Linked DNA regions of Homo sapiens. The protein of the gene in region 1 purifies or fractionates together with the protein of each later gene. This does not show direct contact. Each region holds a gene or a part of one and is shown in the gene's direction. Other genes may lie near its edges.

Region 1 (7,534 bases):
AGCGCCTTCCTCTCGTCCAGCACCCGCACGCGCTGGTTGAGCCCGTCGTAGGAGAGCAGGGCGCGGCTGTTGCGCCCGCTACTTTGCTGGTACATAACCTGGCGCCCCTCCCACTGCTGCGGCGCCTGGCACGGGCGCGGGGCTCCCACCGCCCCCAGGCTGCACAGGCCGCACAGGGTCCAGGCCCAGAGGCCGCCCAGCAGCCAGGCACCCAGGGCGCCCGGGACGGTGCGGAGGGGAGCGCGTCCTGGCATCGCGGTCAGCCTTCCCCGGCCCGAGGGCAAGCCCAAGCCCAAGGGGGCGCTGAGGCGTCCGGGATCAGAGTGGCTCCCGCCGGCTCTTTCCGCACTGTGCCGGGAGTGTGGTCTGGACCAAAGTGCTTCCTGTCCCTTCGGTGGCCTCTGCCGCTTTTGAGATCCGGACGCGCGAGTCCCGGTAGCCGGGACCAGGGCCCGGGGAAGGCTCCAGTGAATCGCGCGGGAGCTATTTCTGCCTGGGCCACTGCCTGCTGCCACTGCCTGCTGCCACTGCCTTCTGCCGCTTCGGTTTTCACTGCTCACTGCTGCCAACAGGAAATGCAGTGGCAGTGGTGCCACTAGCATCCTGGGAGGCATCGTGTTTTAAGAGGGGGGATGGGGGGAGACTGTGCTGAGAAGTGTGTTTCTCCACTAACTTCAGTGTTCAACAGGTAATCACACAGGGAGGGGCAAGTTCAAGGTCAAGATAGGAAAAGCAGAGCTGCTGCGTTTGCTGTGCAAACGTTTGCCCCGCCTACATTGCCCCTCGACAAAATTGCAAACTTCTTCCTCCAAATTAAAAGTGGAAAGACGAGTCTTTTCCTGAAGAAATGATACTAGCTATTCATCATGGCCGCTCCTCAGCTCCCATTCCCAGTGAAGAGTCTAGGAGACTAGTAGACAGCCCCTTGCATTGGGCCTAGGACTCATGGACATAGCCTCAAGGTCACATTGCAGTGAGACTGCTCCTCCCATCGCCTGGCAATACCACCAGCCGAGTGGTTTGGGTGTCTGGGGGGTTTCGCTTCTTCAAGAATAAGGTTAATTGGGTTTATAGTTATGTAATGTTAGGATCTATAATATGGAATGAGCGAGGCTCACACACCTGTAGTCCCAGCTACTCCTGAGGCTGAAGTGGGAGGATCGCTTGAGCCCAGGAGTTAGAGGTTGCAGTGAGCTATGATCATGCCACTGCACTCCATCCAGCCTGGGTGACATGGCGAGACCCTGTCTCTAAAAATATAGTGATAAAGTATGAAATCAAGAAAAAAGAAAGGAACTAAAAAAATGTATAGCGTCTTTCCATTTGAACTGCATTTCAAGGATGATTAAGATTGAGCCAGGTGAAAGTGGGAGATAACATTCCTGAATGAAGGGCATAAGGACAAGAAAAGAATAATGCTGGGGTTCAAGGACAAGGTAGAGGAGTACTCTGAAGCCATAGCACTCATTTTAAGGAATTTGTCATTGATATTGAGGACTGTGGGAACTATCAATCAATGTAAAGCTAGGGAGGAGCATCATCAGGCATATGCTTTAGAAAGCCCACTTAGACAACAGAAAGGGTAGGGCCAGAGGGAAGGCAGGGAGAGGAGGAAGCTACTGTTATCATCCTGGAAAGAGATGATCCTGACTCAGCTAAGGCAGCGGGAGTGGTCATGGAAAGGGTGGAAGACAGGTGGGAGCTGTAGAGAAGCATTTCAACTCAGAGAGAGAGGTTTCTGGTTTGGGCCACTGGGAATCCAGTCCTGAGTGAGGAGAGATGATCAATTCATTTTAGGATTGGTTGATCTTGAGCTGACTGTGGAGTATTAAGGTGGAAATATCCAAGGGACAGCTGGATAAATACTTCTGGAAACCAGCAGAGCTTTTGGATTAGGAAGCCATAGGTACATAGGTGGTAAATGAAGCCGAAGAGTAGAACAGTGGTTCCTGGGGAAATTTCACATCCCCCTCCCCAGCAAAGAAACATTTGGCAATATCTGGAGACATTTTTGATGATCACAATGTAGATGGGGAGGAGGCTACCGCTGACATTTTGTGGGTAGAGGCCAAGGATGCTACTAAACTTCCTACAATGTGCAGTACAGCCACCTCCCCTCTCCCAAATGAAGAGAAAATTATCTGGCCCCAAATGTCCTAAGTGTTGGGGGTGAGAAAACCTGGAGTTCAGGGGAGTGTTGAGTGTGAGAAGAAGGATTAGGATGGAGCCCCAGAGAGCTCCAGACATTTAAAGGATGGGCAAAGAACAGGCACTTGAGGAGACCAAAAGGAGTCACCAGAGAGAAGCCACTGAATGAGGCAACTTCCCGAGCCTTGTTAAATAAATGTAAGGCATGGAAAGAATGGACTGAATGCTGAAGTAGGGTGTTCTAGAATCACAGCCTCCCTGGAAGTCCCGAAGAGGAGGGACAGTTGACAGGTTTTCCTGATGCATCCTTCTCTGCTGCCCCCTGTCTGTCGAACCACCAGAGACACTACCAATGGGCCGAATGGGGCAGGCACAAAGCTTTAGGAAGAAGGGCTCTTCATTTCCTCTTACCTTTTCTTAAAGGGCATGCCTCAGAGAACATCAGGGAAGCCCATAAGACTTTGTGACTTGGTACTTACATAGTTAAACAGATGCAGCAGGTTCAAACTGGCTGCAGAAATTTGAGCCCTCTCCGAGTTTGCCCTGCTCAGATTCATAGGAAAAGTGTAGGGTAGTTCAGCTCTTTCTCTTGCTCCCCAGGTAGGAACTCCAGCTGAAAATCTTTTTCACCCAGTGAAGGGTTTAGACTCATTGGAGTTTACTGCTAGAAATGGCTTGAGATGTCATCTGGGCTTTCCTCCTCATGTGATATTTTACTAGCCTGGCTTGGCATCTTTGGAGGTGGAGACTGGTTCTATAGGAACTAGATTACCTTTCTAGAGTGGCTTGGCAGTGTAAGAACACCCTGGGCTTCCCCTAAATAAGAACCAGACTCTTTGGATGAATCCTGAAATGTATTTGTCTCATTTATCCTTTTCACTTACTATGTTTAATTCATGTTCCCTAAAAAATAAGATAATGCATTTAAAGTTCTTAGCTTCATACCTTGACCATTGTAAATTCCCAATAGATGTCACTTGTGCTTGTTGTTTCCTCAGCTGTTTTAATCCTTAGTCTTTAGTTTTAATCCTCAGTCAAAACTAAACTAATTGTGTAGGTTTAAGCTTTGGAGAGAAAAACCATGTGCCTTAAATTCAAGTTAAACTATGTTTTTAAAGATTAACATTCAGAGAACATGTTTCCATATTGCTGATGCCCTAATAAATAGCATATACCAGAAGTCTTACCACCTGAAGATTGATATACATCAATCTCATATAAATAAATCCTCCCTTTTCTGTAGATAGCTGAGCCAGCAATTGGACTACCTTTTCCTAATGCAAGTAAGATAAAAGAGAAAGCAAAACATACATACTTGCATCCCATAGTACACAGCTTCTTACTCAACTCAAGCAACAGTCTCTGAGCACATCAAAAATCAAGATTTTAGGCTGCTGAGGTGGAAATCCTTTGGCATGAAGGATCAGAGCAGGGGAGACCTTTCAGATTGTGGTGCCCAATGTTTTCTCCTGGGTTCCACTAATGCTGCAGAGGGGAACAGGGAGTTAGAAGGAAGAGGAAATGTTAGAAGACATTTCTGAAGCTGGAAGATGCTAGCACACCTTCCCCCAGTTCTGTTAACTTCCTGGAGCAGAAACAAACCAAGTGTTATACTGGAAAAATTTCGGCCCAAACTGTCTACTAGCAACAACAACAACAAACCACACTCCACACAACTAAGGGCGGAGTGGGAGTGATTTATACAACGTGACCCTCCTGTTCTGACATTCACTGCACTCTCGCCTGCCTTGCAGGACATTGTCCCAACTGTCCTCAGCGCTCCTCATGCCCCCTACCGGAGAAAGCAAATATATTTCAGAATTAGAGGGCAGCAGAAGCTCCTATTTTCCCCCAACTCTATACTTGGAAAAACTCTAAGGCAGAGGGAGCAAAGTTCAGTTTTCAGCCAAAGAGTGTCTTTCTCTCTCTTGAAATTCTCTCCCGCACCCTCTTGTATCCGGTGTCGAAAACAACTGCCAGAGGTTCTTTTTCTTGGTCCGAAGAAAAAAGACTGGCCAGACTAAAAAGGAGGGACTTTAGGGGGAAAGCAGGCTTCCAGCCCTGGGCTGCGGCCCAGAGGGGGTGATGTCACCGCTTCTGCACCGACGGGCCTGGGGGTGGGGCGGCCGAGGGGGAGCCCGCGCCGCGGCTGCAGCTGCCAAGGGAGCGTTCCGAGCCCACGTCAGGGGAGGTGTCGGGATAAATAGGGTCCCGCAATGGCCGTGGCTGGCTGCGCTCCGAGCTGCGGAGTCCGGGACTGGAGCTGCCCGGGCGGGTTCGCGCCCCGAAGGCTGAGAGCTGGCGCTGCTCGTGCCCTGTGTGCCAGACGGCGGAGCTCCGCGGCCGGACCCCGCGGCCCCGCTTTGCTGCCGACTGGAGTTTGGGGGAAGAAACTCTCCTGCGCCCCAGAGGATTTCTTCCTCGGCGAAGGGACAGCGAAAGATGAGGGTGGCAGGAAGAGAAGGGCGCTTTCTGTCTGCCGGGGTCGCAGCGCGAGAGGGCAGTGCCATGTTCCTCTCCATCCTAGTGGCGCTGTGCCTGTGGCTGCACCTGGCGCTGGGCGTGCGCGGCGCGCCCTGCGAGGCGGTGCGCATCCCTATGTGCCGGCACATGCCCTGGAACATCACGCGGATGCCCAACCACCTGCACCACAGCACGCAGGAGAACGCCATCCTGGCCATCGAGCAGTACGAGGAGCTGGTGGACGTGAACTGCAGCGCCGTGCTGCGCTTCTTCCTCTGTGCCATGTACGCGCCCATTTGCACCCTGGAGTTCCTGCACGACCCTATCAAGCCGTGCAAGTCGGTGTGCCAACGCGCGCGCGACGACTGCGAGCCCCTCATGAAGATGTACAACCACAGCTGGCCCGAAAGCCTGGCCTGCGACGAGCTGCCTGTCTATGACCGTGGCGTGTGCATCTCGCCTGAAGCCATCGTCACGGACCTCCCGGAGGGTGAGGCCGTAGGAAGGATGGAGGGAGGCGAGGAGGCGCCCGGGGCTGTGGCTGCCAATCGAGAACTGGGCGGCCACACCTAAGGCTGCCAGGGGCGTCTGAGGCTTGTAGGAGGTGGGAAAGAATGGGGGAAACATTTTCTTCAGAAAAAGTCTGGTTTCTCCCATAGGAATTTTAGGAGCTAGCGGAGAGCACTGCACCCCATAAAGAAAAAAAAAAAGATTTTGCTTACAAAGGGAGCCTTCGATGATGTTTGCATTTATAGTAATAACAGAAATGATAATAGCAGTAAACAGGTGTTGCTAGGTGTCTGAGCAAGTGTTAAACACATTACACGTTATTGACTCATTTAATGCCCAAAATAATCTCACCAAGCAGGTGCCAATACTCGTTCCATTTAGCGCTACTTCTTAAAAAGTTTTTTTTTTTCTGAAAAAGCAGTAACGGTCATTGCTTCCCACCAGGAGTGAGATTTGTAATTGCAGTTTCCCTGGAAAATTGTGAGGTCTGTTTCATAGTCATTGGCCCGGAGCCAACTACAGTGGCATTTTAGTTAACCCCATCTCTGCTTCCACTTCCTTCTTTTTTCTTTGGTCATTTGACTGCTTTTCTAAAAAGAAGGAGAGGTTTAAATTCACTTCTTGAAATGAAACCTAGGAATATTTTTGCATTCTTTTATCCAGGCTTTATCTGGCCCAGGTTACCCCACATTTAAACAGACTATGATATTGCTGTGCTGGAATCTCTGAAGTTATACCCCAGAGCATTGCTCTAAACATGAAGGAGGAGTGGTTAAGTGAACAGGGTAAATGGAAACTCCTCTCTAATTTAGAGTTTTAGGAAAGAAAACATATTTATTGTTTAAATTATATAAATAATAGAGGGTTATGCTTGGTTTTGGTTATATACCTGTGAACTGTTTCTGCACTGCAAGATATGAGGTAGGGATTTGGAAATATTTTGGTTATTTTGATTAACATAAACTGTTAACTTGGAAAATCAACATTTAAATATGACTTTGGGAGAGAGTGATGTGATTTATCCAGTTTGGTTGTATATACCAGTGAGGTTAAATGGATATACATTCACATCGATTTGTGCTTGGATAGGCAAATATTCCCCCAGAGGATTTCTTTCCTAAGCCCTGGATATCATTATGAAAGGAGAAGTCAACAATCACATGCCGTTTTTACTTATATAAATATTTTTTGTCTTGTTTTCTTTTTTTGAGATGGAGCCTCACTCTGTTGCCCAGGCTGGAGTGCAATGGCACAATCTCAGCTCACGGCAACCTTCGCCTCCCGGGTTCAAGCGATTCTCCTGCCTCAGCCTCTAGAGTAGCTGGGATTACAGGCATCCACCACCATGCCTGGCTAATTTTTGTATTTTTAGTAGAGATGGGGTTTCACCATATTGGCCAGACTGGTCTCAAACTCCTGACCTCAGGTGATCTGCCCTCCTTGGCTTCCCAAACTGCTGGGATTACAGGTGTGAGCCACTTCGCCTGGCCCATTTTTACCATTAAATACTATTATTTTGAGATACTGTTTTAGTTTATATCTTCAGAGGGCTCTTTATACCAGCTGGGTGAACAGACCAAATCACCAACCACGCCCATGTGGCCCTGTTTGTGTTTCAGATGTTAAGTGGATAGACATCACACCAGACATGATGGTACAGGAAAGGCCTCTTGATGTTGACTGTAAACGCCTAAGCCCCGGTGAGTTCTTTCTTCATGGACGTTCCCTCTACTTCTCCTCTCCAGAGTGATTTCTGTTCTTTTTCCAACTTTCTGCCTCTTCTGCCTTTTTTAGATCGGTGCAAGTGTAAAAAGGTGAAGCCAACTTTGGCAACGTATCTCAGCAAAAACTACAGCTATGGTAAGTCGTCTGTTAAAGCCATTTACTTTTGAGACTTGGTTCATTACAAAGCTGGAATCTCAATAAGGTCGCTCTCACTAAAGCTAGTCACAAAGTAAAGAAAACAAAAGGTTGACTATTTTTCCAGTTGATCATGTGAATTCTATTAATATATGGCACAATAACAACTGCAAAATATCTTGCTTTTCTGGATGAATCAAGTGCAAACAAAGGAAATGACCCAGGTGATAAAAATTACATGCATCAGATTGAAAATTTGACATCTTGATCCTCCTTGTCTTGGTGAGAAGTGCTTATCAGCCCTGATGGCACACCCCACCTGTTCTCTTCCTGAGGTTTTACTGCTGCAGGAAGAATGAGAGAATGATCCATGGATCTGATTATCTGAGAGTCAGAGAATTAAGGCCCATAGGCCCAGACAATTAAGATCTGCCTGCATATCCTTTTACTTGTGACTAGCTACAAATATTTAACATCTTAAATAAATTGTGAAAAAAATGTTAATCACAAAATCCTATGGTTACACTATCGAACTAGTTTAAATGCCCTCCTC
Region 2 (7,259 bases), on another chromosome or scaffold:
GTTTTTTCAAGCAGTTTTCCAAACATATCAGCTATTTTGAGGAGGTGTAACAAAATAGTATCTGCTTTTAACTCATTGAATGACAACAATTTTTCATTATTACTATTATTTTTTTCTTGGCCACTTCTTCCAGGAAAAAAATGACAAAAAATTTTAAGGCTTTGTTTCCATTTTGCATATTCTTATAGGTGAAACAAACATATGTAATAATTATTCCTATTTGTAACTAAATAGTTAAATTATGTTATTTATGTGATGACAGAAGCTGGAGAAATTTGTATTGCCAAGATGGTTATATATGTTGGTGGGGATGAGCTGGGTAGCTCATGTAGAAATATATCTGGGCATCTTAAACTTTGCTCACTTATTTAAACTAGTAATCTACTAAACTGAGTCATTCACACTTACGAATAGTATCTTTGAATGGGATCTAGTCATATCAAAAATTCTAGAGAGAAAATATTTTCCAACACTTAAAATGCTTACATTTTTCTTTAAGTCCTACGTGTTTTTGACTGACTTTTAATCTGGGTGCAAATGTAAGGTTATTGCCATCACTGATGCTTTGTTGATTTTTTTGTATATTATTACTGATTATATGTTTTTTTCTGAGTTTTTCCTTTCTTGAGTGAATAATGTTTTTATTTTTCAATACAATGAATAATAGTATTGACAATCCTATAAAATATCTGATAGTTACATCTATTGAGCACCCACCATTTGCTAAAAACACTGTGTTAAATGCTTTATATACAGTATCTCTTAGACTACTCACAACATCCCTGAGATAGGTCCTGTTTCCCCCCGTGGTCAAACTCCATCTCTTAAGAAACATAAGAAATTTTCAGAGATATAAAATACATAATTTCTTTTAACTCAGTTTTCTTTCTTTTTTTTTTTTTTTTTTTTTTTTTTTTTTTTGAGATGGAGTCTCACTCTGTTGCCCATGCTGGAGTGCAGTGGTGCGATCCTAGCTCACTGCAACCTCCGCCTCCCAGGTTAAAGCGATTCTCCTGGCTCAGCCTCCCGAGTAGCTGGGCTTACAGGCGCGTTCCACCACTCCCAGCTAACTTTGTGTTTTTAGTAGAGACGGGGTTTTGCCATGGTAGCCAGGCTGGTCCTGAACTCCCAACCCTCCTGACCTGAGGTGATCTGCCCACCTCAGCCTCCCAAAGTGCCAGGATTATAGGCGTGAGCCATCGCTCCTGGACTTAACTCAGTTTTCAAACCACATTTTGAGATCTCAAATAGAACTTCAATGTTCATTTTAAAAATAGTTGGACTTTCAGATACTGATTTTTTAACAAAGTTTCAAAATAAATATTGAATTTAGGAAACACATACTCCCTGCTATTTATGTGAGAAATACTTGAACTTGTCTCCCTCCCCTCCCCCACCCTTTTTTTTAGATGTAGTCTAGCTCTGTCACCCAGGCTGGAGGGCAGTGGCGTGATCTCAGCTCACTGCAGCCTCCACCTGGGTTCAAGCAATTCTTCTGCCTCAGCCTCCCAAGTAGCTGGGATTACAGGCATGTACCACCACACCTGGCTAACTTTCTGTTTTTTTTAGTAGAGATGGGGTTTCACCATGTTGGCCAGGCTGGTCTCAAACTCCTGACCTCAGGTGATTCACCCGCCTCGGCCTCCCAAAGTGCTGGGATTACAGGCGTGGGCCACTGCGCCCAGCCCCCTTTTTTTGAATTGTACACAGGATATTTTTATCTAATTGACTTTTTTACAAACTAAAATCTAGAATTCCTTTTATTTACTTTTATTTTTGGAAATTTTTTTTCCTCCCTGTTGGCAATGCAAAAAGCTACTATTTAATGTATGTGCACTAAATATCAGGTGCTGTGTTAAGTATTTTATCTGCATTGCCTCAGTGGTCTTTCCAATAACCTTCCAAGGCAGGTACCATTATTTTCGCCATTCTACATATAGGGAAAATTGAAGCTCAGAGAAGTTAAATTACTTGCCCAAGATCAGAAAGTCAGTGTTGGAACTAATATTTAAATGTAGGTCTGTCTGATTCCAAAGCTTGTGATTTTACTATTACTACATATTACTGCTATGGAAATTTCTGTTTTTGTGTTTTTCTATGTACAAATAACCTTACTCTTTTAAGTGGAATTTAGCAATATGAATATTGTTTTTCAGCTGTGAGTACCAGAGTGCCCACTGGTTCCAACAGTTCTTCTCAGACCACAGAGTGTCTTACACCTGAATCCTGTTCGCAGACTACAAGCAATGTGGCTTCCCAATCGATGCCTCCTGTGTATCCTTCAGTTGACATTGATGCACATGTGAGTAGATTGCTTTATTTAAACTTATTTTGCACATTCTGATCTTCTTTGGAAAGGAAAATTATTCTGCATTTATTGTGAAAAGAAATATTATTTGCTCTTAAATTGATAACTTCTGTTAAAAAAAATTTTAACTTATTTTTTTCTTCTCCTAGACTGAGAGCAATCATGACACAGCATTAACACTAGCTTGTGCAGGTGGTCATGAAGAACTTGTATCTGTGCTCATTGCACGGGATGCCAAAATTGAACACAGAGACAAAAAAGGTAAATATCAGTCAGAAATAAAATCCAAGTGTAGTTACATCAGAAAATAATTAACTTTTTTATTATTGATAAATAGTTCCTAGACTATCTCAGTGATAAGATGGATAAGTATATTTCAGTTAGGAATATCTGGATTCATTATTCTGCGGAGCCAAATAATTCTCAAAACATTCAAAAATTAGACGTAGATCATTAGTGAAATAGAGCAAGTTGTGGTTGCCTTTGTTAATCCAAAGGTAGTTCATACAGAGGCATCAAAGTTCATTATGAGTATAAACTTTAATAATTTTTACCGACTTAGTTTTTTAATTAGGTGTTTATGGGTTTTTTGTCACTAACAAATTAGGGTTTAGAGCAGTTTTATGTTAACTCATTATCAGTGTCTGCCCTGAAGGATTTATTTTGCTAAAATACTAGAGAATTGTAAACAGTGGCTTTAAAATAAAATAAAAAACATAAATTTGTTTAAGATTTTCATTTTCTGATTTAGGTTTCACACCACTAATCCTGGCAGCAACAGCAGGGCATGTTGGAGTTGTTGAAATCCTTTTGGATAAAGGTGGAGATATAGAAGCACAGTCTGAACGAACTAAGGATACTCCGCTTTCATTGGCATGTTCTGGTGGACGTCAGGAGGTGTGTTAATGTTAATTTTCATTTTGTAAATATTTTGCTTGTATTTTAAAATATGCATATGATTCGTATTTTAGCTACATGAATAAAATTTGCATGTATTTTGTGTGTTTGTTTTTCTGAGGCAGGGTCTTGCTCTGTCTCCCAGGCTAGAGTACAGTGGTGCAATTACAGCTCGCTATAACCTTGAACTCTGGGGCTCAAGCAATCCTCAGCCTCCCAAGTAGCTAGGGCTGTTTTGTAGAGATGGGGTCATGTAATGTTGCCCTGGCCGATTTCAAACTCCTGGCCTCAAGCAATCCTCTCTCCTCGGCCTCCCAAAGTACAGGGATTATAGTTATGGGCCAGCATGCCTGGCCCTGCACGTATTTTAACATGTTCCATATACTTTCTGAGGAATGGGTACTTCTGTTAACTTTTATGGGAATGTAAATGCCCTTTTTTTTTGGCGGGGGTTTGTGGAGGGAACAGGAGGGTGGAGATGAGGTCTCATTATGTTGCCCAAGCTGGCCTTGAACTCCTGGCCTCAAGGGATCCTCCTGCCTTGGCCTCCCAAAGTGCTGGGATTATAGGCATGAGCCACCATGCCTGGCCATAAATCCCCTTTTAAAAAATCTGTTTCTTGCCCTTAAAGCCAAATAAAAATTATCTTAATCCTTACATTTATTCGGATTGAATGAATCACAATTCTAACACATATGAAGTGCAAATTTATTGCCCAATAAATGGCAAATAGAAAGGGTAACATCTTGTTATTGCAGTATAATTGGGATTTCAAAACTCTGAATTCCTGAAATTGAATCCATTTCTCTAGTGTTGATATTTCAATATTTAGGGTCTAATGAAATGTAATTAAAATATCAGATATTTAGATAAGGAAGTTATAAGTCCTGTTTCTTTGTGTTTCCTTCATTATAAGTTGAGCCCTTGGTGTAAACTCTCTTCTCTATCCATATTTTACTTTGTAGGTGGTAGACTTGCTGCTGGCTCGAGGTGCAAATAAAGAACATAGGAACGTATCTGATTATACACCACTGAGTCTAGCTGCGTCTGGAGGATATGTTAATATCATTAAGATTCTGCTTAATGCTGGGGCAGAAATTAATTCAAGGTATTGCCTGTTCATTTTATTGTTCATGTTTAGTAAGTTACTACTTTGGACTTAAATGTCTACCTCTTAACGTTTAGACAGATACATTTTAAATTAAGATAGTACTAAAGTTGCAAAGCCAACGATTATACCTATAATGTGTTTGTTTATAAGTAATCTCAGCTTATTTCAGTAATGTGGCTGCTTATAAAGAGGTCTCATTTCAAAAAGTGTTTTGTTCTATGGCCTACCACCCTAAACGTGCCCAATCTCATCTGATCTCAGAAACGGTATTTTATTTTATATAGTTGGAAATTTATAATCCCTAAATAGGAATTACATTTTATTTTTTAAGTTATTTATTTTTTGAGATGGAGTTTCGCTCTTGTTGCCCAGGCTGGAATGCAATGGCGCGATCTTGGCTTACCGCGAACTCTGCCTCCGGGGTTCAAGCGATTCTTATGCCTCAGCCTCCCAGGTAGCTGGGATTACAGGCATGCGCCACCACACCCAGCTAATTTTGTATTTGTAGTAGAGATGGGGTTTCTCCATGTTGGTCAGGCTGGTCTCAAACTCCCGACCTCAGGTGATCTGCCCTCCTTGGCCTCCCAAAGTGCTGGGATTACAGGCATGAGCCACCATGTCTGGCCGGAAATTATGTTTTAAATTGTGACATTTTCTTATTCTTTATTATTGGTCGAAACAAGTAAAATCTATTCATTGATGTTAGAAACCTCTCTTTTTAGTGAAACCTTTTCATCTTTAATGCTTTTCTAAAATAATAGGCAACATATTATTTTAATTTTCTAAGCACATTTCCCCCTTTAGGACTGGGAGTAAACTAGGTATTTCTCCCCTGATGTTGGCTGCAATGAATGGACATGTTCCTGCAGTAAAATTGCTGCTCGATATGGGTTCAGACATTAATGCCCAAATAGAGACCAATCGGAACACGGCTCTCACCCTGGCCTGTTTCCAGGGCCGAGCAGAAGTAGTGAGTTTGCTTCTGGACCGAAAAGCCAATGTTGAACATAGGGCAAAGGTAAGCATTTTTTACTTGTCAACTATTTCAGATACATTTCTGTAGAAAGAACATGGCATTTTAACGCAAATTGAATATAATATTTTAAATTATCATAAATTAAAACTGATACCAATGCAGAGTTGAGGGATTATGCTGTATAATAGTGAGTGACATACTGTCACCATCATGACTTTTATTAAGGACAATGAAGAAAACAGAATTAGTACTTTTCCCAACCTCAGCCTTGAGTAGCTTTCTATTAATACTGCAGCTTACAACTTTTGAATGTAGTAAGATTATTTTGTATTAACTCTTACACTGTAGACTTTTAAAGAACACCTTTAATGAGGTATGTGCTTATCATTGTAAAAATCCCAAGCAAAAATTTAATTCACAAGTTATAAAATTAGGGCAGCTAACATCTAATTTGACCATGGCAGATTTTGACAGTTTCATGACTATTTGGTATTAAGAAAATAGGAGTTAGTGGAGGCTGGGCGCGGTGGCTCACTCCTGTAATCCCAGGACTTTGGGAAGCCTAGGCAGGTGAATCACATGAGGTCAGGAGTTTGAGACCAGCCTGACCAATATGGTGAAACCCCCGTCTCTACTAAAAGTACAAAAAATTAGCTGGACGTGGTGGCAGGCGCCTTTAATCCCAGCTACTCAGGAGGCTGAGGCAGAAGAATCACCGGAACTTGGGAGGTGGAGGTTGCACTGAGCAGAGATCACGCCATTGCACTCCAGCCCGTGCAACAAGAGAGAAACTCCATCCCACCCCCCGCCCCCACAAAAAAGAAAGAATAAAGGAGAAAAGTCATAAGATAATCTCCATAGATGCAGGAAACACACACAGAGGAAAGAAAATAGGAGTTAGTATGTCATTGGCTTGAATTTCTTTGCTTAGAACTGCAAGGTTCTTAGAACTCTGGAAAGACGTAGGTTGGGTAGAATTTTTAATAATTAGTCAACAGAGAATCTAGTGCTCATTTGAAATTGGAAAGATTTGACTGGAAATCTCGTACTTCTTCCCTGAAATTCCTTTTACTTCTTAAAGTTTAGTGCAACATTTACATTCTTTTAATCTAAGTAATGAGGAAGTGTAGTTTTTCCTTGGCTTTTTACCACACAAAGAGAAATGAGTCTTTCCTGTCATTCAATTTGTCTTTTTCTATTACAAGTATTCATTGTGTGCCACTCATCCATTAAAGGTCCTAGAGAAATCTGTGTTATTTTGGATAGTACCAGTAGGAAATGTCCTTTGAAAAAATGTTGGAGACTAACGTACCAAAGGCACATATGCAAAAAATTTATAAAGTGATTTTAATCTACTTATTTTTAATATCTCTATTCATTATGCAAAGAAATTATCTGAGTAAATTCACAAAAGTATAGAAGTTACAGAATTGTTTTTAGCATGAGATAACATGTTTTAAGTTCATTCTAGCACGTCTGAATCTAACAATTTCTACTGCTGTTTAGTAAAATTCAAGGCAAAATATTGCTTAGCTCTTTTATGAGAGCTAATCAGAACTAGAATTGTCTTAAAAGTTAATTGCCTCAGGTTTTTAAAGAAATTATGTAGCTTAGTTTTGGTCTACGGAATAGTTAAAAAAAGAAATGTAACTTAGTTGCATAATTTATTGGTTTAAACAGACGGGTCTTACCCCCTTGATGGAAGCAGCTTCTGGAGGGTATGCAGAGGTTGGAAGAGTTCTTCTTGATAAAGGAGCAGATGTTAATGCTCCCCCTGTGCCTTCCTCAAGAGATACTGCTTTAACAATAGCAGCAGACAAAGGTCACTACAAATTTTGTGAACTCCTGATTCATAGGTGAGTACTTTTCTATTATATGTAGAACTTCTCATGGTCATTTTCACTTTTCAGAGCTTTTAAAGTTAATAACATTGTTTTACTTTATTGATATTGTTAAGAAAAGATTAT
Region 3 (7,259 bases), on another chromosome or scaffold:
TGTATTCTGGCCTTCACGAGAAGCCCTAGATCAAGCTAGTCATTTGTACCATCTCTACTTCTACATCAGTCCTGCTCAGTGTTTCAGGATCTATCCTTACTTTTGCCTGTTCCTAATCAGATACCTCCTTATTTTCATTAACATCTATTTCAGATTTTCACTATCTTCCCAAATTCCTTAATACCTCTCCTGCCCCCTAAACTTTAATCAATAATTTTGCTTTCAGTTTCACTGAGAAAAATTGAACCTGTCATGGAAAAAAATTCCTTGTATTTTTCTTCTTCCATTTATAAACTGGTTTCTTTCCCCCTGCCTCACTAGGAAAGGTATCCACCTTCCTCTGAGACTAATCCCCTCACCAGGGCTTTGGCTACTAGTTCCTGGGTCCTCAAAGCTTTTTCTGGATCTTTCCCTTCAACATGTACACAAGCTCAAATATCTTCTGTCCTTTAAGAAAAAATTCATATCTCCATTCTCTTCTAGCTGCCGTTTTATAGCCCTCCTTTTCTTAGCAAAAAAACTAATGGAAAATCTAGTCTACCTACACCACTTTTTTTGACACCAAGTCCCTGAAATTGCACGTGATAAGGATACCAGCAACCTTCATATTGGCAAATCCAGTTTTTTGTTTTTCCTGGACCTCTTAGTAACATCCAGTGCTAGTGACCTCCATTTGGAAAGTCCCTTCTTCAGCCTCCATAAAACTGCTTTCTCCTGGTTTTCTTGTTATCTTTTTCTCTTTCTTCTTAGACTCCCTCTAAGAATTCTGTTCCTCTCTTCAACCCAGAAATGTCATTGATCCTCAACTTTTCCTCAGTCCAGAGCTCCCCTCACTTTATGCACTCACCCTGAGTAAATTCTCAGAGCTGCGTCTCCAACCCAGATCTTTCTGCTGACCTCCAGGTTTTTGTGTTCACATTTCATTCAGTCATCACCACTTAGATATTCCACAGGTACCTCCTCAAACAACACATTCAGAAAATAACTTTATCTGTCCTGTGGCCACCCCCTGTAAAACAAAAACAAAAAGTCTGTTTTAGGATTAGCAACACAAGTCTCCCAGTACTTAAGCCAGAAATCCAAGATTCCTCCCTGTCACTTTCCCCTCCTGCTGTTCTATGGATTCTTCCTCCTGGGCTAATCAGTGCCCTCCTCTTTGTTATTACTGTCACCTACTTGGTTTAGATTCTCATCACTTCTTGCATGGATTATTATCATAACCTCCTAATCGATTTCTAGGTCTTCAGTCTGGTTCCTATCTATCCTCCACTCAGGTGCTACAGTGATCTTTCTGTAACAAATTTCATCGTGTTACTCTTACTCTCTAGCCTAAAAGTCTTTGTTTTTCTCATAGCTTTCAGAATAAAGTTCAGACTCCTTAGTTTAGCATACAAAGGCCAACTGTGATTGGCTTTTGCTGCTGCTGCTGCTCTGTTTTCCTGCCCTCTTGCTTGTCTCTATACGCCCGCCAGTGAAACTGGCTGGAACTACTTGTACTTCGGCATTCACTGTGCAGTGTTCTGCCTCTCTGCCTTCACATATGTGTTTCCCTCTACCTGGAGTATTCTTCCCTTCCTTTTTGTCTAAGTAGCTCTCATTGATCCTTCAAAATTATGTACCTACATCGCTATATTTCAGGAAACTTTTCCTGACTCCTCAGTCTGATTCAGATGCTCCCTCTCAAAACAGACAAAGGACATGAAGAAAGGCTTCACAAGTGAACAATGACAAAATGTCTAATAGGTAAATGAGAAGATATTCAGACTTACCAGCAATCAAGGAAATGAAGATTAAAACAATGTACTTCCATTTTTTTCATCAATCAAATTACCAAAAATTTAAAGAGAGGAATCAGTCCAAGAAAACATGGAGAAACAGGCCCTCTTCTAGATTGGCCCTATGTATCTAATGACTTTTTTTGAAAAAGTATATGTACACACACACACACATCTTTTGACTCAACATTTTACTGTGTGGAATATATTATAAGCAAATAACTGGAGAGCTATGTAAAATATATGTAAAAGAATGTTTATCACTGCTTATTTGAAAACAAATAGTAAATAACCTAAATGTTCAGCAATAACAAATGGCTAAATTTATTTATATGATAGAATGTTATTCATTAAAATGATCTATGTCTATTTTGACCTGGAAGTACATTTGTGAGATATTGTCAAAGTAAGTTATAGTATGGTCCAAATTTTGTAAAAAATACATACATTTATAAATTTTTGTAAGAGAAAGTTAAAGTATATACATAAGAATATCAACAGTGTTTATTTCTGCTTGTGAATATTGTCCAGCTTTTCTGAAAAGAACATTTATTAATTGGGGGAGCAAAATGGGAGAAACTTGGCCTCACTCCCAATAGCTGCTGTGCTTGCTTGCTTCTGTCACTGCCCTCATTAAACATTGAGCACTCCGAAGACATCACTATATGTCATTTGGCATCATTCTCCCAGGGTCAGGCACAGAGTAGGAAATGTTTGATAAGTGAATTAGAGCAATAACAGCAATAATATTTATTGTGCATTTACTGAGTCTTAGGTACTGTTGTAAGCATCTGACATATGTTAACTTAATCTTCATGAGATGGGTATTATTATTCTCTCCATTTTGCCGTTGAAACAGACTGACAAGGTTAACCACCTTATATTAGGCCACACTGGCAGGATTGGGCTTCAAAACCATGGAGTCTAGCTTTCTCTTAGACGCAGGACTGCATGGTGCTTCTGAGTTAGGTTGGATCTCTGATTGAAAATAGTGGATTAGATTCCATGTCTAAGATTCCATCTAGTTAACTGGGCATCAATTGAATTATGGTCTGAATAAAAAGGCAGAATTTGACACCCATGGGTCTGAAACAAATAGCAGGGAAAGTAATCTTTGATTCTTTGGCATTTTTTTTTTAACTCAAATGATTTTAGACTGTAAATTTCTCATTGATAGTTGGTGCTACCCCTTGAGGTTTGGTTTTCTGCTGTTGATGTCCTTTCAAAACTTACTCAAAGACCTAAATTTGTGATTCGTTCTTTTAAGTCTTGCCCCATCCCCTTTTTCTTTCTCAGCAAGATGACTCGTGAAAAGTTCATCAGATTTTTATTTATTTACTTATTTTTATTTTTATTTTTTTCTGAGATGGAGTCTCGCTCTGTCACCCAGGCTGGAGTGCAGTGGCGTGATCTCGGCTCACTGCAACCTCTGCCTCCCGGGTTCAAGACATTCTCCTGCCTCAGCCTCCCGAGTAGCTGGGACTACAGGCCATGTCATCTCCCACATTGTCTCCTTGCTTTCTCTGCTCCACCCACTTTGGTCACTTTGCCATTCTTTTAGTGAATCACGCATGCTCCACTCTAGGGCCTTTGTACTTGCGGTTATTCTACCCTGGAGGATTTACCTCATAATACCTCCTTGGCCTCCTTCCTCTAGTCTTTCAGGTCTCTGCTTTTCAGATGTCAGTGAGGTCTTCTCTGACAACCCTTCATAAAACAGCACCCTCCCAGCATTTCTAAACCCTTGCCCTGCATCATTTTTCTCCCCAACACATGCCACCATATGATAAGTTTATATGTTTAACTTGTATGTTGGGTTTTTTCCCCTTGTTTTATTTCCTGCTCTATCCCTAGTGTATACAAAGAACCTGGTACACACAGTAGGTAGTCAGTATTTGTTGACGGAATAAATACATTGACAGAACCTTCTTGGAAAGCAACTACAGTATATTTTAAAAGCTGTTCTTTAAAAAGAATGATTAAGTAAATTCTGTCCACTTGATGCAGAGAGAGAGATATCCACATGGAGCAGGGTCTGGGAGATGGGATCAAGATCAGTAATGAAACTTGTGTTTTCTTTCAGTAAGCAAAAAGAAGATGATGGGAGAATAATTTCTAGGAGTAGAGGAAGTTTGAGACTCAAGAACAGGTACTAGGTGTTGGTAGTCTTTGAGAAGACTAGGTTGATGGAAGCAAAAGGTTGGTGCAGGGACATAGTAGAAAATATGATTATAGATGGATTGGAACAGGTGTTGAGGGACTTAAAAGTGAGTCAAAAGAGGTAGACTTGCTGTGATCCATGAGGAAATCAGAAGTGTGAATTTTTAAGCTGTGAGGGATGAAAATGCCGTGTAAATCTAAGCTTCTTAATATCATATAAGGTGGCAAGGAGCATGCAATAAGAAATTCATCTCAGAGGCAGATGTGACAAGGCAGAGTTGAGGTAATATTACTCTAGGCAATAAGGAGTATAAGGTGTGATGAAACAAAGGCATGAGTTGAATATCAGCTGTAAGGGATATTGCAGATAATAAAGCGTGGTGGTTAACTGCAAATGGGATGCAAAGAAAGAGGAAATCAAAAGTTCCAGCATTAAAAAAATTTCCTTTTAATTTTTTTTTTTATTACAGGTTTCTCTGTCATTCACAGAAAAATGAATCATTTAAACCTTTGGAGGACTCAGTTATCACAATACTTCTCTACTACCAACTAAGATTTATGATAGTAAATTTATGAGAGCAAATTTCCATGTTATAGAACTGTTGAAGAACTAAAAGAGGATATTCTTTCATCAAAATAATTCTGCAGTATCATAATATTACTAAATAAAATTAAAAAGCACAATTATTAAATTATTAAATTTGCCACACATGTGCAGCAGCTACTGTATCCTGATAGTGACCAAACCTCAAATATAAATGGTTTCCCTTCATGGGAAAAGCCATTATATTTGGAAGAAACCACTGAACATTGTTATTAAATATATTTTCAGCTAACTGTCATTTAGGAGAATTTTCATGAAACAAGTTCTAGAAAGTTCCAAGTCCCACCAGTAAGTGGATTTGATATTATGGCAGCAACTTACAGACTTGTGGTTAGTACTGTGAACCACTACAGCAGCGTGGTGATAGACCGGCGTTTTGAACAAGCTATACATTATTGCACTGGAACCTGCCACACCTTCACACATGGAATTGACTGCATTGTGGTACACCATAGTGTTTGTGCAGACCTCTTGCACATCCCTGTGTCTCAGTTCAAAGATGCAGATCTGAACTCTATGTTTCTACCCCATGAAAATGGGCTTTCTTCGGCTGAAGGAGACTATCCCCAACAGGCCTTCACAGGCATACCCAGGGTCAAGAGAGGATCTACATTTCAGAATACCTACAACTTAAAGGATATTGCAGGAGAAGCAATCAGTTTTGCCAGTGGGAAAATAAAAGAATTTTCCTTTGAAAAACTCAAAAACTCTAACCATGCAGCTTACAGAAAGGGAAGGAAAGTTAAGTCTGACTCATTTAATAGGAGGTCAGTTGATTTGGACTTGCTTTGTGGCCATTATAACAACGATGGGAACGCCCCATCCTTTGGTTTACTGCGGAGTTCCTCAGTTGAGGAAAAACCTTTGTCTCATAGAAACTCACTGGATACGAACCTGACTTCCATGTTTCTTCAAAACTTTTCTGAAGAAGACTTGGTTACTCAGATTTTGGAAAAACATAAAATAGATAATTTTTCTTCTGGGACAGACATAAAGATGTGCTTGGACATCTTATTGAAATGCTCCGAGGATTTAAAAAAATGCACAGACATCATAAAACAATGCATAAAGAAAAAATCAGGGAGTAGCATCAGTGAAGGAAGTGGTAATGATACAATTTCTAGCTCTGAAACTGTCTATATGAATGTAATGACCAGGTTAGCATCCTATCTGAAAAAGTTACCATTTGAATTCATGCAGTCTGGGAATAATGAGGCTCTAGATTTAACAGAACTGATCAGTAATATGCCTAGCTTACAACTGACTCCCTTCTCCCCAGTGTTTGGCACTGAACAACCCCCTAAATATGAAGATGTTGTCCAGCTCTCAGCTTCTGACTCTGGACGATTTCAAACTATTGAATTGCAAAATGACAAGCCTAATTCTAGGAAGATGGACACTGTACAATCCATTCCAAACAACTCCACAAATTCCTTATATAACTTAGAGGTAAATGATCCTAGAACTCTAAAAGCTGTCCAGGTCCAATCACAGTCATTAACCATGAATCCTTTAGAAAATGTTTCTTCTGACGACTTAATGGAAACTCTTTATATTGAAGAAGAGTCAGATGGAAAGAAAGCATTAGATAAAGGACAAAAGACAGAGAATGGACCTAGTCATGAGTTATTAAAGGTAAATGAACATAGAGCAGAATTTCCAGAACATGCTACTCATCTTAAAAAATGCCCCACCCCAATGCAAAATGAAATTGGTAAGATATTTGAGAAATCATTTGTTAATCTACCTAAGGAAGACTGTAAATCAAAAGTTTCTAAATTTGAAGAGGGAGACCAGAGAGATTTTACAAATTCCAGTAGCCAGGAAGAGATAGATAAATTGTTAATGGATTTGGAATCTTTTTCACAGAAGATGGAGACCTCTCTAAGAGAGCCACTTGCGAAGGGTAAAAACTCTAATTTTTTAAATAGTCACAGTCAGTTGACCGGTCAGACCCTTGTAGATCTTGAGCCTAAATCTAAAGTCTCTTCACCCATAGAAAAAGTCTCACCTTCCTGTCTAACAAGGATTATTGAAACCAATGGACACAAAATAGAGGAAGAGGATCGAGCCCTCTTACTGCGAATCCTGGAAAGCATTGAAGACTTTGCTCAAGAACTAGTTGAATGCAAATCAAGCAGAGGGAGCCTATCACAAGAAAAGGAAATGATGCAAATTCTACAGGAAACCTTGACAACTTCCTCCCAGGCCAATTTATCAGTCTGTAGAAGTCCTGTTGGTGATAAAGCCAAAGATACTACTTCAGCAGTTTTGATTCAGCAGACTCCAGAGGTGATCAAGGTAAGACCCAACAATTTTGAGTCCTAGGAACTCTTTAAAAAATGTTTAGTGTTTGAAAATTTTATAAAGAAAAACTTTTTTGTTAGCCATTTTTTGTTCTACTAAAGCTCTGCCCTACACTAGGAATGATCTCACTCAGCTCAGAGTCAGTAAAAAGCAAAGATTATACAAGATGATAGAGGAAAAAAAAAAAGCAAAGACTTTAGACTCAGACTGGTTCCTACTGCCCTCCCCATACCCTTCATCTTCTTCCCAGCTCTGTGACCAAAGAAAAATTACTTACCTTTAATATCCTCATCTTTATGGTGGAAATAATAAGGATCAAAATAACTTGTGTGAAACATAAGCAAGGTTCCTTACACAAAGTAGGCATTTAATATTAGTCGTCACCCTCCCCAGCCAACCAAGAGACCAGTTGT
Region 4 (8,002 bases), on another chromosome or scaffold:
TGGTTCTAAATCACACGCAAACAGTATAATTCAACAATCTTCTCTGAGTTATTCAGGGAACTTCAACGCACTCAGAAGTGGAAGATCGGGGCGGATGAAATCAATGAATTCTCTGAGTGCTCTGTTTTTCTCTGAATTCTATTTCATTTGCCAAATGGAGGGTGGGGGCAGCTCCATCTGACCCCTGGGGGATAACTCCTGGGGGAAGTCTGGAAGCAGCCGATTCGGGGTTTCTGGGTGACACTGGTTTTTCTTATCTTCCCGGTTCTATTTCTGTAATAGACGCAAGTGTCATGCAGGAAAAGGCTTGCTGCTGCGGAGCCTTCTGTGGATGGCTGTGACAGGCCACTGGAGGAGAGGGTTTCAGGCTCAGGGCTGGGCTGGTCCTGGTTGGGAATCTCAGTGTTGTGGGCCATAGCGTCCTCACCACACTTGCTAGGAGGAAGCTCCTGCCCTCTGGGGCAATGCTTGCTGATCTCCTCACCTAAATGCAGGCACTGCTAACCTGCCTTGGTCACAGCCCTTTGTTGGGGGGGCAGAAAACAACTTTGTCACTCATCACAGTGGCCACTGTGAATCGCTTGCTGCAGCTCAGGACGGGGGCCGTCACCTTCAGCCTGGCAAAACAGACCTTGGGGTCGTGCCGGCATCTCCAGGGGCAGTGTTCGCCTATGTCCTGCACAGGGCCCGCTTCTACCAGTCCGAGGGCAAGGCAGACTGTATTCCCCACCTCACTGCTGGCACTAAGGTGGCAATCAGAGGAGAGCTGTTTCCTCTGGGGAGCAGGTACCTTCAGAAACAAGGACAAGAGAGCTGAGACGGGACGCACGGCTTTCCAGACCTGCTGCCTTTCCTGCCACTCTGTTCTGCCCAGACATTTTAAATTGAGACAGGCCCCGATGTCCACGGCCATGTCAAGTCTGCCACACAGTAGGTGCTCCGTCTGTAGGTGTGGAATGCATCTCCCCCTCCCACCCTGCGAAGCCCACTTGAAAAATACCACCGGCAGCCACACGTTAGGGGTCAGCCCTGGCAGGCCCAGTCCTCACACCGACTTGTGACGTGGGGACTTTTATTTCATTTTTCACGTGAAAAAGTTCAGGTCTAGGGCGGAGATGGGCCCCTGGGTGGCGGAGCTGCCACTCCGTCCCTCACCCTCTCACAGCCCAGCGTCCAAAGCTCAGCACTCGCCTGGCCTGAATTAACATGGCCGGCGATACAAGAATCAAAGCAAACAGGGCTTCTCTCTTTTTCCTCCTTTTTGCCAACTGCCCCATTAACAGAAAAACCTTTTAAGCGCCCACCTGGAAACCTGGCTTTTTCCCCTCCCTAAGCAAACTAAGATGGCCAAGAGGAATGTGCTGCAGTGCGGAGGGTGGGCGGAGGACCCCAGCAGCCTGGATCCTGCTCACATGGCAAACAGTGAACCCAGGCAGACCAGAAATGCCCCTTGGGCCCAGCCCCGTGGTCCCTGCAGCAAGGCGGTTTGTGGCCAACAGGGGCTCCTTTCAGGAGCTGGGCCACAGAAGGCCACGGCTGCCCACCGGTCACACCTTCCCGTAATAGCTCACTGCGGTTATTCCATCTATAGTCTGTCCCCAACATCCAGGTTTCTTGGAACAGTTTATATCTCCAGCCTAGACCACCTCTTATGGAATGGAGGAAAAAGGTGACCCCACCTGGAGAAGGACACACTCGTGAATAAATACATCACTGGCTTTAAGAACACAGCCCGCTCTGAGCATCACTGCTCAAACCTGCCCAGCTGTCAGTGTGCCCTTAACAAACATTTACTGAGGCCCTGCCATGGATCAGGCACTTTGGGGACTCAAAGATGAAACGACACAGGCAGCTCCCAGGCTGGCGGGAGATAAGGCATGTGTATAAGTAATTAGCAAACAGGACTGTGTGTGGGCACTGCAGGTTGAAGTGCTCTGGTCCCCAGGAGAGGAAGTGTCTCTGATGAGGGACCTGCCTGTGGGAAGATCATGGAGCTGTCTTTGATCTTCGGAGAAGTCTGGTAGGCAGGGGCCCCTGGGTGGGGAGGGAGGCTCGGGAGAGCTGGTGGGGACAGAGACAAGGGGAAAAGAGGCCAAGGCACGCCAGGAGAAAGGCTGGAAGTGAGGCAAGATGGGCTAATGTCTATGGAAACAGAATGGTCTATTCTTAATTTTAAAATGGTCTGTTTTAATTTCTGAAAAATATTGCTGGGGACCTATGAATAGGTCTGTTTTAATTTAAACAGATCATTAATAAAATGGTCTGTTTTAATTTCTGAAAAATACTGCTGAGGACCTGTGAATATCCTCCTCTTGAATTTGCACATTCTTCTCTTTACCTTTGGGCAGGGAGGAGGGGTGACTGGACCGGAAGCATCTGTGAGTCATGTGACATTCAGGTTTGAGCACAAAAAAGTTCCAAACTTAGAGAAATGTTACAAGGGTATTAATCTTGTGCTAACTTTGAAAAGAACCAGCAATTGTTACCACTTTGCCCCTTTGCTGAACTGCCCTCTCTCCGTTTATCACGTTATGTGGTTGTGGAACTGTTTCCCAGTAAGCTGCCAGCATCAAAACGACCTTGAAGCACAGTGCTTCATAATATGGGATCTCCTGGAAACAAGGACTTCCACTTAGAACCACCCTGCCATGATCAAAGTCAAGAAATGGAACACTGATACAATACTATTTTCCAGTGTACACAATCCTTATTTGAATTTTGACAATGATCCTCATACCATCCTCTATAGCAGCCCTCTTCCCTGGTCCTGGATCCAGCCCAGGATCATGGGGTGCACTGTCAGTACTCAAGGGCAGCCTGGGATCTACACACTAGACAGAGGTGAGAAGCAGTCCCAGTCCAGGCACTCTTAGGACACAGTGCTTTCTTCTTCCCCACCTCTGGGTTTCTCTTCTGGTTTATAGCTCAGGCCCTTTGGCTGTGTGTTTGAGCTCCTTTGGGAGTAAGCAGAAGCGATTTCCCCCAGACACTCCATCGTTAGGAACTTTCCTGATTGTGTTCCTGACCTCACATCCTGGGCCCCACCAGGCCTGTAGAAGGAACACAAGGTTTAGGAGTCAAGCCTGGGCTTGGGGCACAGGAAGCACAGGCCCCTCATGGACCAGGCTGGGCTCCAATGCTTCAACCAAGGTCACGGGTCTGGCGAGAGGCAGGGGAGGGAAGGACCTCCAGGGCTTCTCGCTCTGAGTTCAGTAGTCTTGCCTGTCCTGAGTCCCTGTCCTGAGAGATGGTGTCCTTGAGCTGCTCCAGAGCTAGGAGTGCTCTCTTCCTAAGTAAGCCAGAGTTCCAAGAGTGCAGGATCTGGCCACATCTACCTCCTTCATTCCCTTGTCTGCAGCGCCCAAGGTGAGCCCAGCCTATGACAGGTCCCCGTCCATAGCTGTTCAAAGAATGGGGGCAACCTCAGGGTGCCCGGCAGACGTTAAAGAGAGGCCTCAAGAGGTGGTTGCTCACCGGATGGTGGTTGTCCACATCCTCGGGGCTTCAGGAGTGAGGCCTTGCCCTGTACCTGCCCACCTGCACCTCGACAGCTCAACAGGCACAAGGCAGCGTCCACTGGCTCTCCCCTTCCGAGCCAGGGCTCTCACGCCTTCTCAGGGAGTCCCTTCCCCATCTTCCTTGGAAGCTTCCACCTTCTGTCCTCCAGGCGGTGGGGAACTGCCACCCTCCTGGGCAAGGATATGGAGCTGGTGTTTGGCCTGGATGCCCTTGCCTGGTTGGAGGTAATAAAGCCTAGGGCTGGCTTTCGACGATGATAGAAACTTGGTGGCAGGGGAGGTACTGAGGACCAGGAGACAGAACAGCTGCTTTCAAGCTGCTGAGTACCCAGCCTGCTGCCACTCCTGTACACCGCATGAGGGAATGCTTTTTTTTTTTTTTCTGACAGAGTCTTGTTTTGTCGCCCAGGCTGGAGTGCAGTGGCATGATCTCGGCTCACTACAACCTCCGCCTCTCAGGTTCAAGCGATTCTCCTGCCGCAGTCTCCCGAGTAGCTGAGACTACATGTGTGTGCCACCACACCTGACTAATATTTGTATTTTTAGTAAGAGATGGGGTTTCGCCATGTTGGCCAGGCTAGTCTTGAACTCCTGACTTCTGGTGATCTGCCCACCTTGGCCTCTCAAAGTGCTGGGATTACAGGAGTGAGCCACCACACCCGGCTCTAAGGGAATACAATTGGGAGTCCGTTTTGCTCTTGGAGAATTCAGGGTCTGGTAAAGGGACCCTATGGCAAACATTAAGACCCCAGACACCATGAGCTGAGATGGGACGACAGAGCAGGGGCTGGGAAGGGTGCTGGGGCACAGCCCAGCCCTGGCATGGATAGGGCAGGGGTCCAAGAGACCTGCAGGACACTGCAGAGTAACTTGCATACAGGGCGAGAGAGGGCATGTGGGGGAGGGCGGGCAGACAGTGCCTGATGCAGGCCATCCCGGGACCTGGGACCTGCGAGGCCCAGTTGTGGAGCCTCCTGCTGTGGCGGGGCACGGGGCTTCTGGGGACCAAAGTCTGGAAAAGGGGCCGGGAAGATGGACAGGGAAAGCCCTTGGAGGTGGTCTGGTTACCTGGGTGAGCTAGGAGCCACAGTCATCATACCACGGTCACTAGGGCCAGCATGGTCACCTAGAAGCCTGCAAACAGTGCCAGCCTCCAGGCCCTGTGCCCCGAGGTGGCCTTTAATCTTGCACTCACTCTCTAGGAAATGATGGGGCAGTATTCTGTGTTGAGGGAGGAAAAACACTCCCTTCCAAAAGCATGACAGGCAGAAAGCAGAGAAGGGCCAGGACTGGCTGAGGGCGGGGAGCTGGGCCTCTGGGGTGGACACACCCTTGGTCACATTGTGAGGGTAGCTTGGTTGGCCAGTCCCACCACTGCAGTGACCACAGTTGTGTTGGGCTCACACCAGTGAACCGAAGCTCTGGATTCTGAGAGTCTGAGGATTCCGTGAAGATCTCAGACTTGGGCTCAGAGCAAGGATGCGTGAAATTGTCCATATTCAGATTGGCCAGTGTGGCAACCAGATCGGAGCCAAGGTAAGTAATGTCTGGTTACTAATCCTAGCTTTACCACAGTCCATAGAGGCGGACAACCAAAAAAATACCCTAAGTTAGCAGGGAAGACAATAAGTCTAGCAGATTTAATGTACTTGCTAAATATCAGACAATGCCTTTGGGCTTTAATTCTTAAAAAAAAATTTCACATGGGAAAAGAAGGAAACAATCTTTAACTAAAGAGCTACAACACACATTAAGTGCTTAGAGTGTTAATTTAATTAATGTTAATTTTATCCATAGATACATATGTACAATACATGCCGACCATTATATTACATAATACGTTTATCATCTTTTTCTTTGCCCACTCTGTTGCCCAGGCTGGAGTAGAGTGGCAGAATCATGGCTCACTATAGCCTCAACCTCCTGGGCTCAAGCTATTCTCCTGCCTCAGCCTCCTGAGTAGCTGGGATTACAGGCATGCACCACTATGCCTGGCTAATTTTTAAATTTTTTTTTGAGAGACAGGGATCTCACTTTGTTGCTCAGGCTGGTCTTGAACTCATGGGCTCAAGTGATCCTTCTGCCTCAGGCTTCCAAAGTGGTGAGATGACAGGTGTAGGCCACCGTGCCTGGCACTTTTATCATCTTTTATTTTTTTGAGATGGAGTGTCACTCTTGTTGCCCACGCTGGAGTGCAATGGCGCAATCTTGGCTCACTGCAACCTCCACCTCCTGGGTTCAAGTGATTCTCCTGCCTCAGCCTCCCCAGTAGCTGGGATTACAGGCATGCGCCACCACGTCTGGCTAATTTTGTATTTTTAGTAGAGATGGGGTTTCACCATGTTGGTCAGGCTGGTCTCGAACTCCTGACCTCAGGTGATGTGCCCGCCTGGGCCTCCCGAAGTGCTGGGATTATAGGCGTGAGCCACTGTACCTGGCCCACTTTTATCTTAACAATGAACTTTTCATATCTAAAAACAGTAATTTGTCTCAAAACAGCTTTTTGAAGTTTTTTGAGAAACTTTCTGTACCCTGTCACTATGGTGTCTTTCCCCTCCCCTCTCATGTTTATTGTAACGCTTAAAAAAAATCAATTACTGTTTTATTAGTATGCAATTGAAAATTTAAGAAATTTAATTGAAAATAAAAGTTTTTTGTGTACAGTAACATAATTAATTAAAATACACTGTCTGGAATATAAATGAGTTTTTCTTTCCCTTGCCCCCCTGCTTAAAAATTTCCCCCAAGTACGTAACTTAATTGGCCAACCCCAAGAACACAGATGCCCGAACCCACAATCTCCAATCTTGATTTTAAGATGACCAATTGCACCGTGCAAAATTTATCGTGTTCTCTTTGCTGCTGTGAAATTACTTTTACTAATATGAGATGCATTAAAAGTGAGGTTTTGAAACACCTACATTCATCATCCATCAATGACACTTGGGTTGTTTCTGCCTTTTGGCTACTGTGAGTAATGCTGCCAGGAAACAACTAAGGCTTTTAAATGCAGGCGTTTTAAACCGGGGGCAAGGAACATTACTGCTTGAAAAGAAGTCACCATTCCTCCATGCCTCAGGGGTAAGACATTCATAACTCACACACAGAGAAGTGGGAGGCAGGAGCCCTGCTGCTCTGAAGCTGGAAGATAATACGGAAAGGGGCCCTCAAGAGAAAGTGTTAGGTTTAGATAGGGTTTTAGCTCTCACTCTGGAATCGTATGGTCTAGCGTTGAGAGTCCTGGCTGACTCATCATTTAGAGATATAAGAACTTTAAGACACATTTAATTTGGGGTATCTTAGAACTTGAATTTATTTATTCTTCCACTCCCTGAACAGTGCTGGCAGTTTACCATGAACTGCCTTGTTATTAAGACCATGGCCAGAGCAGCACTGTCATTTAGAAGATATGGCTGGGGTTTTTAACATACCCTTGGGGATTTTAATATATGTGAATACATTTTCATTGCATTTTAATATGTGCCTTTCAGGGTGATCAAAAGGAGTCTTCCCAGTAACTGTTTCCATATTAAGAGCTTGGCACATATCTATATTAATAAGTACTGTGTATGTGACTGGAAGTGCAGTATGTTTCAAATAGTTACCAGAGGACAACTATGTGTAATTGTGAGTTGTATGTATACCTGACAATCAAAAATGCACATTACTGGCCGGGCACAGTGGCTCACGCCTGTGATCCTAGCACTTTGGGAGGCCGAGGCAGGTGCATCACCTGAGGTCAGGAGTTTGAGACCAGCCTGGCTAACATGGCAAAACCCTGTCTCTACTAAAAATGCAAAAATTAGCTGGGCATGGTGGTGGACGCCTGTAATCCCAGCTACTTGAGAGGCTGAGGCAGGAGAATTGCTTGAACCCAGGAGGTGGAAGTTGCAGTGAGCCAAGATTGTGCTACGGCACTCCAGCCTAGGTGACAAGAGTGAAACTCTGTCTCAAAATAAATAAATAAACAAACAAACAAACAAACATAAAAAAATAAAAAAAAGAAAGAAAGGCCGGGTGCTGTGGCTCATGCCTGTAATTCCAGTACTTTGGAAGGCCAAGGAGGGTGGATCACAAGGTCAAGAGATAGAGACCATCCTGGCCAACATGGTGAAACCCCGTGTCTACTAAAAATATAAAAATTAGTTGGGCGTGGTGGTGCGTGCCTGTAGTCCCAGCTACTCAGGAGGCTGAGGCAGGAGAATCGCTTGAACCCAGGAGGCGGAGGTTGCAGTGAGCCGAGATCACGCCACTGCACAGATAAGACTCCATCAAAAAAAAAAAAAAAAAAGGCGCTAATTACTTAAAATCATGCACAGAGGTCCAAGTTATGGGCTGTTTGGAAAAGTTCATGAAAAGAAATCCCCAAAGTGAAATGAGTTATTACTGTGAAATCAGATAAGAATTCAGTTTATTTTCCTTTAATGGAATCTACACTTTACTAGCTTGGAGCATTATAAGGAGAAATTAGAGCTATATTGACA

What was found.
Region 2: the proteins of SFRP4 (region 1) and ANKHD1 purify together in Homo sapiens (affinity purification with mass spectrometry, with the first as the bait; 3 studies listed by BioGRID). This does not show direct contact.
Region 3: the proteins of SFRP4 (region 1) and PPP2R3A purify together in Homo sapiens (affinity purification with mass spectrometry; 3 studies listed by BioGRID and IntAct, with this or other methods). This does not show direct contact.
Region 4: the proteins of SFRP4 (region 1) and TUBB1 purify together in Homo sapiens (affinity purification with mass spectrometry; 3 studies listed by BioGRID and IntAct, with this or other methods). This does not show direct contact.

Annotation. Positions count from the first base shown.
Region 1 is NC_000007.14:37,913,660-37,921,193, reverse strand, and holds the start of SFRP4 (secreted frizzled-related protein 4 precursor), read left to right. Parts: upstream 1-4,376; 5' UTR 4,377-4,656; coding exon 4,657-5,101; intron 5,102-6,740; coding exon 6,741-6,821; intron 6,822-6,915; coding exon 6,916-6,981; intron 6,982-7,534. Other genes in the region: EPDR1 (mammalian ependymin-related protein 1 isoform 1 precursor), read right to left, coding at 1-254.
Region 2 is NC_000005.10:140,502,665-140,509,923, forward strand, and holds part of ANKHD1 (ankyrin repeat and KH domain-containing protein 1), read left to right. Parts: intron 1-2,156; coding exon 2,157-2,302; intron 2,303-2,457; coding exon 2,458-2,569; intron 2,570-3,059; coding exon 3,060-3,205; intron 3,206-4,170; coding exon 4,171-4,313; intron 4,314-5,120; coding exon 5,121-5,334; intron 5,335-6,972; coding exon 6,973-7,148; intron 7,149-7,259. Other genes in the region: ANKHD1-EIF4EBP3 protein, read left to right, coding at 2,157-2,302, 2,458-2,569, 3,060-3,205, 4,171-4,313, 5,121-5,334, 6,973-7,148. UniProt on the Homo sapiens protein: May play a role as a scaffolding protein that may be associated with the abnormal phenotype of leukemia cells. Isoform 2 may possess an antiapoptotic effect and protect cells during normal cell survival through its regulation of caspases.
Region 3 is NC_000003.12:135,996,654-136,003,912, forward strand, and holds part of PPP2R3A (serine/threonine-protein phosphatase 2A regulatory subunit B'' subunit alpha), read left to right. Parts: intron 1-4,405; 5' UTR 4,406-4,845; coding exon 4,846-6,840; intron 6,841-7,259. UniProt on the Homo sapiens protein: The B regulatory subunit might modulate substrate selectivity and catalytic activity, and might also direct the localization of the catalytic enzyme to a particular subcellular compartment.
Region 4 is NC_000020.11:59,014,526-59,022,527, forward strand, and holds the start of TUBB1 (tubulin beta-1 chain), read left to right. Parts: upstream 1-4,903; 5' UTR 4,904-4,997; coding exon 4,998-5,054; intron 5,055-8,002. UniProt on the Homo sapiens protein: Tubulin is the major constituent of microtubules, a cylinder consisting of laterally associated linear protofilaments composed of alpha- and beta-tubulin heterodimers.